Linked DNA regions of Homo sapiens: region 2 is linked to region 1. The links come from fine-mapping of genetic effects on gene expression. A gene starts in region 1. The other region holds a variant in brackets. All regions are shown on one strand. Distances are between the middles of the regions. Region 1 holds the start of THBS1 (thrombospondin 1). Region 2 overlaps LOC105370777 (a long non-coding RNA gene).

What was found.
Region 2: its variant is fine-mapped to the expression of THBS1 in whole blood (INTERVAL, PIP 0.99).

What each region holds. Positions count from the first base shown.
Region 1 is chr15:39,578,725-39,584,094 of GRCh38, reverse strand. It overlaps THBS1 (thrombospondin 1), which reads right to left and starts at 3,016. Exons shown (of 22, transcript NM_003246.4): 1 at 2,867-3,016; 2 at 2,171-2,266; 3 at 1,343-1,902; 4 at 403-478; 5 at 1-107. The coding sequence starts at 2,237. LOC124903470 reads right to left here and starts at 4,288. Exons shown (of 1, transcript XM_047433405.1): 1 at 3,101-4,288. The coding sequence starts at 3,777. The coding sequence ends at 3,343. RefSeq lists silencers at 3,476-3,525, 3,536-3,765 and an enhancer at 3,188-3,925.
Region 2 is chr15:39,348,410-39,353,779 of GRCh38, reverse strand. The region is part of intron 1 of LOC105370777 (a long non-coding RNA gene); the gene reads left to right. Among named protein-coding and RNA genes, the nearest start is that of LINC02915, 100 kb to the right of the region's middle. The variant C/T (reference allele first, on the strand shown) is at 2,889.

The DNA of each region.
Region 1 (5,370 bases):
GCAGATGGCTTGCAAGTCCTTTGTCTTGTGGCCAATGTAGTTAGTGCGGATGGCAGGGCTGGAACCATTCACCACGTTGTTGTCAAGGGTGAGGAGGACACTGGTAGCTGGCAAGAAACAAAATGAAAACTTCAAATAGATACTCTTACCAACCAGCCTCTTGAGTTCTTAGTGGTAGAAGACGTTTCATTTGGTGTGAAGGATGCAGGTAGAGGGGTTGCGTGTATGCGCACGTGTGTATACGTGTGTGTGTATAATACCCCTTGGAGTCACTTCTGTATGCCTCTTGATGATCTCACTGGGGGTAATTTATGTATAACCACTATTGCTAAATTCCTCAGTTTGTTTTTGGTGGAATTCCCCCTGATTCCCTATGTGCCCTAAAAATAGAGGGGTACTCACAGCTGGAGCAGCCTTTGTTCCTGAGGATGTCTTCTGGTGTGGTTCCAAAGACAAACCTCACATTCTGCAGCACCCCCTGTGGGCAGAGGACACACATTACTTGTAGAATGCAGAGCGGGGTGGGGATGGGGTTGGGGGAGACTGTCTGTATGCTAGGAAAAGCATACAATAGATGTTCTAAAAGCTTCAAAGAGCTGTCTTAAGATCACTATGTCAAAATAACACAGCAACATTAATCGCCAAACAACTTCAAAATCTTAATTGTGACTTCTGCCAAGTCTTGAGTATTTTACAAAGAATTCAGTTATCAGCCTACTTGGGTACACAGGAAATGGAATCTGATCCTAAGCCTAGAGGATATAATGACACTTTCCAGTGTCAAAGAGTTAAATGTGGGAGTTCAAAGCCACCGTTGCAAAGATCTAGAAGTTAAGGCACAGATGAAGCTGTAACAGCAACAACTAACTGCTATTTTAACCTTTTATGTGAGACCAGCTGCATCCCCATGAGGAATCCAATAGCAAAGTGGTACTGATTCTGCCCATAGAAAGTATCCATTTCAAACAAGATTAAAATTGGGGGAATGCATTTGAAATAAGCTCTTTTCTTAAGAGCCTAAGGAGTATCTAAGGCTTGAACAGGCTGACTGCTAAAGGAAAACCATTTCTTGTTTCCTTGAGTAGTTTTCAAAGTGTGCTTCCCAGACCACCGGCATCAGCATCACCTGGTACTTGTTAGAGTTGCAGTTTTACAGAATCCCAGACTCTGGGGCTGGGGTGCAGCAGGGTGAGCTTTCACAAGCCCTCCAGGTGATGCTCATGCTGCCTAAAATCTGAGAACTGCTGCGTTAGTTTACAGACAGGATTTCCTGTAGCCCTCCTGGCAGGTCACCTGTCTAGCAGATGATCCCACGGAGCAGGGCTCAGAGAAGAAGCCTCACCTGGAAATTGTCATTGACGCCCCCCTTTGCGATGCGGAGTCTGGCGATGCTGGCCAGGTCTCTGGTGAAGACGCTTTGGATGGGGACGTCCAACTCAGCATTCTCCATCTTTTCACAGTCGATGTACAGCTGGGCCCTGTCTTCCTGCACAAACAGGGTGATGCTCTTCCACTGGCCGGTTGCCAGGAGAGCTTCTTCCACAGACACCACGTGCTGCTTTCCTTGGACGGTCAGGCTGAGGTCCAGGGTGCCCGCCTTGCCATTGGACACCACGCTGAAGACCTGGCCAGAGTGGTCTTTCCGCTCCAGGGCCAGCAGCGTGCCCCGGGTCTTCTTCATCTGCCTCAGGGATGCCAGAAGGAGGAAACCCTTTTCTGCCCGCACAGCATCCACCAGGTCTTGGAACTTGTCATCAGGCACAGGGGGGATCAGGTTGGCATCCTCGATGCGGAAAGCTGGGCTGGAAGGGTCGGGGCCCTTCACCAGTCGGCGCCCAGACCCCTTGCGGGCGGCCCCGGTGAGTTCAAAGATGTCAAACACGCTGTTGTCTCCGCCAGACTCTGTTAGACAGGAGAGAACACAAAGTGAGCTTTCTAGGCTGGGACCAGCAGTAGGGGGCTGAGTCCTTAGGGGTGGAGACAAAGGGTTGGGGTGAAAACTCCTGGCAACCACTGAAAGAGGTGAATAAATACCAGGATCAGAGTGAAGCTGCGTCCTGATGTCCAGTCAGGCTCAAGAGGGAGAGGACAGCACGTGAGGGGGCACACCTGGGATAGCCAGCACCTCTTCCTTGTCCCTCCTTCCCCTAAAGGTGCCACACAAACTCACCTGGAATGCGGTTGGTGCCACACACATGCATCAGGAACAGGACGCCTAGTCCCCAGGCCAGCCCCATGGTGGAGCTGTTGGTGCCCAGCAGGGATCCTGTAGCAGGAAGCACAAGAGCCGAGGGTCAGAGATCAGCTAGGCAGGGAGGGACGGTGCGCAGAAACGGGGCTGGGCATGGGGACAGGGCCGGGACCATCCCTCTTTGACCCCGCGTTTGCTGAAATGAAGGACAACAGGATTACTTTCCAGAGAGCATGAGAGAGAGAGAGAGAGAGAGAGAGAGAGGTGGAGGAAAGAGATGCTGGTTTTAAAGTGTGGGGGGCGCAAGACCAACAATTTGGGGGCTTTTGGGAAGTCGAAGGTGAGCAAGATCAGGAACTGTAGTTTGGGGTTGCAGGGAGGGCAGGGGAAGTACAGACTCTTCCCTGGAGTGCTGATACAAAGGCTTAAGGAGGACTTCAGAGAGTAAGGAAATCTTGGGGTGTCCTGATGAGTTGGTTTGTGAACCTCAAGGCTGGAGAGGATGGCTCTGGAGCCTTGCCCTGAAGAGTCCTCCAGCGGCTGAGAGGAGCGGGCTGGGGTAGGCGAGCGGGGAGAGTGTAGGTTCCGGGGTCCACCAGAGGGACTGAAGCCTCAGCGCTCCAGGTGGATGTCCCGGGCAGCTTTGGTCCTCGGCGGCCGCCGGGGGCGACTTACCTGTGTGTACCGGAGCGCGGCGGCCGGGAGCGGTGGCGAGGGCGGCGAGGGCTGGAGGGGCGCGGGGAATGCCTGTGCGTCCGGAGTAGAGGTTGCTCCTGGAGAGCGACAGGAGCCCTGAACTCGCAGGCCAGCTCGGGCGCAGCGGCTGGCAAGGCGGAGGAGCCGCGCGCTTTTAAAGGGGCGCTCGCATTCCTGGGGATTCCTCCGGCCAATGGGCGGCGGCCGGGCAGGAAGCGGGAGGTGGGGGCCAGTCTGGGCTCCTCTCTCCGCCCCCCGCTGCCTGGCGCGCAACTTTCCAGCTAGAAAGTGAAGGGGGCGGGGGTCGGGGCTTGGGAGCACTAGAACTTCTCAGAAAAGTCGGTGCCCGCCCACGCAGCCTTGGCGCGCACGGGCTCGGCGCTCGTACTCTTGCGCCACGCGGGCTCGGGGTGATCAGCAAGCATCCCGAAAAGGGACGGGGCTGGGGAGACCACCTAGGAGGGCCCGCGGGGTGGCGCAGGGGCTTTCGGGCGAGCTGATCTCCCGGAATGCCTGGTTGATGGCGAGAGGTGGATACTAGAGACTGGGCCCGTTTTGTAAAAAGAAAAATGGGCCGACGGGGCGCAGGGGACACCAAGAGAGCCATTCGTTAAAGTACCTGCCCCTCGGGCCCTCGCTGACTCTCCTCCACCGTCCCCGTGGGGTGAGGACACGCGTCCCCCGAGCGCCTGTCCTGAGCTGGCCCCACGCCCGCCCCGGAGGGAGGTGAGCGCGGCGTCGGCGGGGCCGGCAGGTTGGTGCGCCGCGTTCGCCTTCGCTGCCTTCGGGCCCTTTCCTGCCGCGGCTGCCAGGGGGCCCACAGAGACGCCTCTCCCGCTGCCGCGGCGCTCCCTCGGCCGGCCGCTTGGGGGCGGTGTGCGTATTCTCATCAAGGGGCCCGGGGAGGACAGCTGCTTTCTACTCGAATTTTAAGGAAACTTACTCGTATCCAGTTTCCACAAGCCAAATTGAAATTGTGTCTTGAAAAACAGTTTTTGTGCCCACTCGTGCTTCTTAACGTGACTCCTGTTTGGAGAATTTGCAGAACCATCTGGCTCCAGAGTCTTCAGCTATTTACAGAGCAGACCCATAGAGTAATAAATTACTCTCTGCCTATTATTGTATTTCCCTTTTTCCTCCCTAAACGTTCTTTTCATTTTTCGGCTCCTGAACCCGAGGTGTGGGTTACATTTCTGTGGGTGCACACATTGCCATGAGTGCCGCTGCCTAGTGCTTCTGTCATTGAAGTCTGGTCTCCAAGCCACTGTCCCAAGCCAGCATGACTCTAGCTTCCTGGAATTCCATTCATCTCTTCGGGATGGGACGTCAGCCGCCTCGCTCCCTCTGCTGTGATCCAGCGCTATCGGGCTCGCTCCGAGGCCAGGGCATAGGTAGAAGCTTGACCAAATAAGGATCTCAGCACGGGCAGGGGGAAACCCCTGGGGTTCACCTCCCATCTTAGCACTTAAACCTGGCAGGACTCCCGACTGCTGCAAACAGCCAAGTGTTTACATTCATCAAACAGCAGTTTCGCTTTTCTTGCGTGGGAGTGTTGTATGACAAGATGGTGTGTGTGTGTGTGTGTGTGTGTGTGTATTACGGAAAGAGTGTTTTCTAGTTACTCAATATGTATATAAAATGCCTCTAAAAGATGACCGGTATGTTCCTAAGGCACATGTTTGTTGGATTTCAGATGTTGGGAGGCAGAAAGAAAAGTTTCTACTGGTTGATGAATAAAATCAGATTCTTGTCCCGCAAATCATAGGTAATGATTCATCCAAGCAGATCTGAAGATTCTGGAATCGGCACCCATCCATCTCCCTCCCCTTCCTTCTCCTTCTACAGCATTCATCTTGCTCTTCGAAAAGTAATTGGGTTTTTTTTTTCTTCTTTCCACTTGCTCCATGATACTGGACAGTCAGAAATAGTTCTTGGAGGGATGGGCCGCTCATGGCTCTGGGCTCCTCTGGCCCACTGGATCATTGTGTACAAATCAGATGGGGGCTTGAGGGCTGCAAGAGGCCCACAAAAGCAGAATGCATCTTGTATGAAAAGATTATCTCCCCTAGGCTTAGCTGTGCAGACAGAGTAGAAACCAGCACTCACTGCCCCTTCAGGATTCATGCTGCCATGGCTGAGGGATTGTAGGAATGCCTCTGCAGATTTCTTGGAACTTGGCTTCTTTCAACAAAACAAGGACAACAGTTTCCAAACTTCATCATGCTTTACCAATAAGAAGGTGACCTATACGGTGGCAGGAAAGAGCTTTCTTATTAGAGAAAGCTGACAGGTATAGGAGCTGCTTATCTCAAACACAAAGCCCTTCCTCTTATCATGATACTTCAGTTGTTCTGGGTGGAAAGGAAAGGTCATAGAAGAGGGAGTGTCTGCGCCCCTTAACAGGAATTCACCCACATTCTTGCCAGCCAACATGTGCTGCAAATATTCCCCAAACCTCATATACCTCTGTGCAGCTTTGAGAG
Region 2 (5,370 bases), 230 kb after region 1:
CCCAGCAAAGGCTCAAAGAAGCAATGTGGTCTATTGGTATCGAGGACTCTGGTGCTGTGCTGGCCCCAAGGCCCCCGAGCCTGCCATCATTTGAACTCTTTGGCTAATTTTGTTACTGCTTTCAAACTGTTTAACCCGAGGAGAGGGCTCCCTCTGGCGCTGTCTCCTGAGGCCTTGGAGAGCTGTGTCCCTCTCAGTTGTGGTGTTGATTTTCTACAAGTGATTGAGAGCTGGTGTTTTGGTTTGCAGGGTCATCCCTCAGCGGTAGGAGAAGACAGGTGAGAGCCGGGGAGGCCACTCCTACCTGCGGTTCTAGAACCAACCATCCTGACGAAGGACTCTATTTAACTTGCTTCTTATCTTTCACATCCACCATTTTCCTCTCCTTATCCTTCCCGTGCGAACTTCATTAAAACAGGACGACTTCCTGTCCCCAAATGCCCTCAGCATTTCCCACGTTAGAACCTTTGCTCAGGTAGCCTCTGTGCCTGGAATGCCTGGAATTTCGTCCTCTGATTTCAAAGTCTCTGATTCCCTCCAAATTTTAACTCTTTTTTTGTTTTGTTTTGAGACAGAGTCTTGCTCTGTCACCCAGGCTGGAGTGCAGTGGCGCGATCTTGGTTCAGTGCAACCTCTGCCTCCTGGGTTCAAGCGATTCTCCTGATTCAGTCTCCCAAGTAGCTCCAAATTACAGGCATGTGCCACCATGCCCAGCTAATTTTTGTATTTTTATTAGAGAGGGGTTTCACCATGCTGGCTAGGCTGGTCTCGAACTCCTTACCTCAGGTGATCTGCCCACCTTGGCCTCCCAAAGTGCTGGGATTACAGATGTGAGCCATTAACTCTTCATGGAGGTTTAGTGCTTCAGGCTATTGGAGCTTGTGTCAGGCAGCTGGCCTGATGTCTTGTGCCTCTCTGCTTGGGCCCTATGTTGGCTTCTAGCAGTCCCTCAAAAGAACCACATTAATTCCTACCTTTTGTGACAGGTCCTTTATTTTATACATGCCATTCTCCCTGCCTGAATGCCCTACCCTCACCATCCCCACCACACCCCTTTTGCCTGGGAAATGATGGCTTGTCCTTCACTTCTTAGTGTCAAGGTCACTTTCTCAGGGAAGTCTCCTCTGAAGCCCCATCCTCCAGCTCTGTGCTTTCATAGGACCCTGTACTTCCCTTCATTGCATTTATTAGTATTTTAATGAATTACTTAATTTTGTGCCTGTCTGCTTGATGACTATGTCCCAGACTAGATTAAGCTTCATAAAGACAGTAGTATATTTTTCATGGTCTTCCCTGAATTCTCAGTTCCCAGTGTTTAACGTGTAGTAGATGGTCAGTAATTTCTCCCTCAATTAATGGATGTTAAATTGTGTATCTCCTATTTGAGTCTGAGTTCCTTCACAGCAGGTGATGGCTTCTGCTGCCGGGGCCAGGTCTAGGGGCTCCGGCTGGGCTTGGGATATATATATGTATATGTTGTATTGTGATAATAAACATAACATAACATTTACCACTTAACCATTTTTTAAGTGTACAACTTAGTGGCATTAAGTCCAACCATGTTGTGCAGTCATCATCAGACCTGGATTCTGATAGCCAGACCTGTAAGAATCTGTATGGGAGAATAAGACCTATAAGACTCTGTATGGGAGAAGCTGGAGGCAAAGGGGAATCAGAGTGCAAAGTCAAAAGAGAGCTTTCGGAATTAAGGAAGAAGTGAACAATGCAAAACATTAAGTCGGCAAGATGGGCAGTGCATAAGAAAATCTAGATCTTGGGGCAGGCACCATGGTTCACGCCTATAATCCTAGGACCTTGGGAGGCCAAGGCTAGTGGATCATTTGAGGTCAGGAGTTCGAGACCAGCCTGGGCAGCATGGCGAAAATCCTGTCTCTACTAAAAATATAAAAATTGGCTGGGTGTGGTCATGCATGCCTGTAATCCCAGCTGCTCAGGAGGCTGGGGTGGGAGGAGGATCACCTGAGCCTGGGAGGCAAAGGTTGCAATGAGCCAAGATCACACCACTGAGCTCCAGCCTGGGTGACAGAACCACTGTCTTTAAAAAAAAAAAAAAGCTCTAGAACTCTACAGAAGTGGCTTGAAGTAAGGTCAGAGAGGCAAAGAAAGTGGGTTCTAGAGGGAGTTTATCCCCAGAGGGACAAACGTGGTGATGGGAAACCTTCTGTGGGCTTGTAACTGAGTTCGTGGGTGGATGTGCTGGGATGCCAGGGCTGCTGCGACACCAGAGGCCACTTCTTCTTCACCTCTCTATACTTAGAATCTCTTGCAGAGTTTGGTGCTTGAGACGGCATGTAACAAAATGTTTTAATTAAACTTATGCTTTATGGCAATTGCAAAGGATGTTTGGGATGTGGCTCCGGCCTCCTTAACCCACAGGTGAAGGGTATCTGAAATGATCAGTTGCCTCTAGCCTGTTGCATCCCTGAAAAGCTGTTCCAGCTTCTTAGCTTTCAGATGGTAATAATGCTGAGGGGATTGAAGAACCGTTGTTGACAAAATACAGGTTTGCCAAGTTCACAATTTTTACCCAAGAAGCAGGTTGGCTGGGGAATTAGGAAGCAAATGAATGCTAACCTCTGGTGTAGCAGAGTCTGTGAGCCTCCTTGCCCTTTTCCCCTCCTGCCCTGCTGAACTTGGGGGTTGTGGGGTGGTGCTGGACGAAGGACCTCTTTGTAGCCTCTGACAGGTTTTATTTTCTGCCCTTTGGCTCCCTTTGCATCGTTGACAGACTTGCATTCAGTTGCCAAAACCTTAGGAGGGAGAGAGCACGTCCTTGCTCTGACACTGTGGAAAGGGAGGGGGCAATGAACGCTTCTCTGAGAAGGCAGGAAGAGGGATGGCTGTCATTCTGCAACTGCCCTCTTTAG[C/T]TGGAAAACCTGCTGCAGCTGAGTGCAGAGTCAAGGCCCTCTGGAAGGGAGGGAAAAGGCAGGCATTTCAGGCAATAGGACAGTGGGGATAAGTTAGTGAAGATGGGAATTAGCATAGAGTGAATAAATAAGCCTGAGGAATACAGAGGGAGCAGGTGGTGAAGAAATGGGCAGTATGGGTAAATAGACAATCTGTGGCCACACGAGAACTAAGCAGAGATGTAGAGGTTTGATGCAACAAGTTACAGGGAGATATTGAACATTTTCAAGCATTAAATAAATTTTCTTGGAAGCTATTGTATTTCATATCCTGATATAGGCTCTGGGATATGATGGTAGGAGAGATTAATGTGGGCCTTCCCTTAAAGAGCATAGAGTTTAGAGACGGGGGCAGGTAAGCACCAGGGAATTACAATGCAGTGCCTACATGAAAATGTACCTTAAAATTAATGTAAAGAAATGAATGAATTAGAAGGTGTAGAAATCAGAATCATGGAGGCCTGATATGAAGCTTTTGCAATAATTGGATACATGTTATGAAGACCTTGAGTGTATAGTGGTGGGAATAAGCAGAAATGAACAGAAAGAAGGTACATTTCTAAGAGGGGACAGTATCTGAAATGAAGTTTTGTCTAACTTTGCATTCAGTGTAATATTTGAATGAATGAATGCTGAACTTTCTGACTCTGGGTTATTTTAAGAAGGTGGCAAAAGTATAGCTACATGATTTTGAAGTTGGGTGACAGAATGGAGATACCGGTAACAGAACAAAGAAGCTGGGGAGAGAGGAAGAGGGGTAGGAAAAAAGGAATATGCTGTGGTCTGAATGTGTCTGCCAAAATTCATATGCTGACACTTAACTGTCCACGTGATAATATTGAGGTAGAGCCTTTAGGAGGTGATTAACTTATGGGGGCAGAATCCTCACAGATGGGAATAGGACCTTATAAAAGAGGTCGAAGGGAGCACTCTTCTGCCCTTCCACCTCTTCTGCCATATGAGGACACCTAGATTGTACGATCTATGAGGGATGGGCCTTCGCTGGACACTGAATCTGCTGGACCTTGATCTTGGAATTCCCAGCCTCCAAAACTATGAGAAATTTCTGTTGTTTATAAATTACCAAGTTTAAGGCAGTTTGTTATAGCAGCAGACATAGACTAAGACAGAAGGGAAAGGAAGGTGTTGCATTTGGCTTAAGAAGACATGTTGAGTTTAAAATGATGGTGGAACATCCCAGAGGAAGTGTCTAGTTTGTAGTTAGAGAATAAAGCAAGCAAGCAAAGAAATAAACAAGTCTTGGAAAGGAGTGTAGGACATTGCTTGTTAGAACAGGCTGTGAGATATTCATTTGGAGTAATTAGTCGGGTAATAATAATGGAATACATCAGACTGAGTTCCATGAGAAAGAAAAATAAAACTATAAAAAAGAGCACAGAATTAAGGATCATGACTTAGAAATTACTCACACTTTTCTCCCAATGATTGGGTTCTGGATTTGGCCTTGCTGCTGGACTTCTTGGTCCCATATGTCTAGGGTGAGGTCTTCTCCTGGCTGCTCACCAAGTTCATCCTCACCTCCTACATCTTTCAATGTTGCTTACTCTATGCTGGGGATTCAGCCTCTACCCAGGTTAACACCCAAGTAGCTGAACCTCAGCTAGTGTTTTCTAGGCTTTTCTTCCCAACAGCTAGACCCTAGCCCAGGGTCACTTAGCTATAACTAGGATCCTAATTTAAATTAGATTAAAATCGTCTCCCCACAAATTCTCAGACTGTGCCAATTCCAGACACCTGTATTTCACCACGGCCTAGATATTTCTTCTGTCGTTCTTTTCACATCAGACCATATGGACTGGACACAAATGCTGGGACCCTGATCTGCCTGCCTAGTTGCACCCTGTCCCTTGCCCCATTGATGTTCATGTCCACATTTCAGACCTGCCCTGGTTTTTTCTCACCTCTTTTCCCACTGGCCCCAGTTAAACTGCTGTCTTACCTCCAAGGTAGAGGGCAAAATAGAGAATACGCGATCCTTGGCATGACCTTCCTCTGGTCCTAGAGAAATGAGTCCCCACTAGGATTCTGTGAATCTGTCTGGATTATTTTATTGTCTTCTTTTTTTTAAATTTGGTAGTCATCTCAGTAGCTTTGAGAAGAACCATCTTTTTATGATGTTCCCACACAGCCTGGAAACCTTTGCAAAATGTTGTGGCCTTTTTGACTCTCAATTATCATCTGAAAATTCCTCAGTGCTTGTCACAAATGAGATGACAATCTAATTAGGAAGCTTGATTCTTCCAAAGACGTCAGCTTTCCAGAAGAGAAACAACTGAAATCATCATGGAAACTAAAAACCATTATGTTTTAGATTTTCTGAAAAATAAGGTGTAATGTAATTTTTTAAATTAGTTGTGAATTTTTCTGAATGTTGCAGCCATTATCCATCAGGGAAGTAACCTAAAATTGTGATAGGAAATCT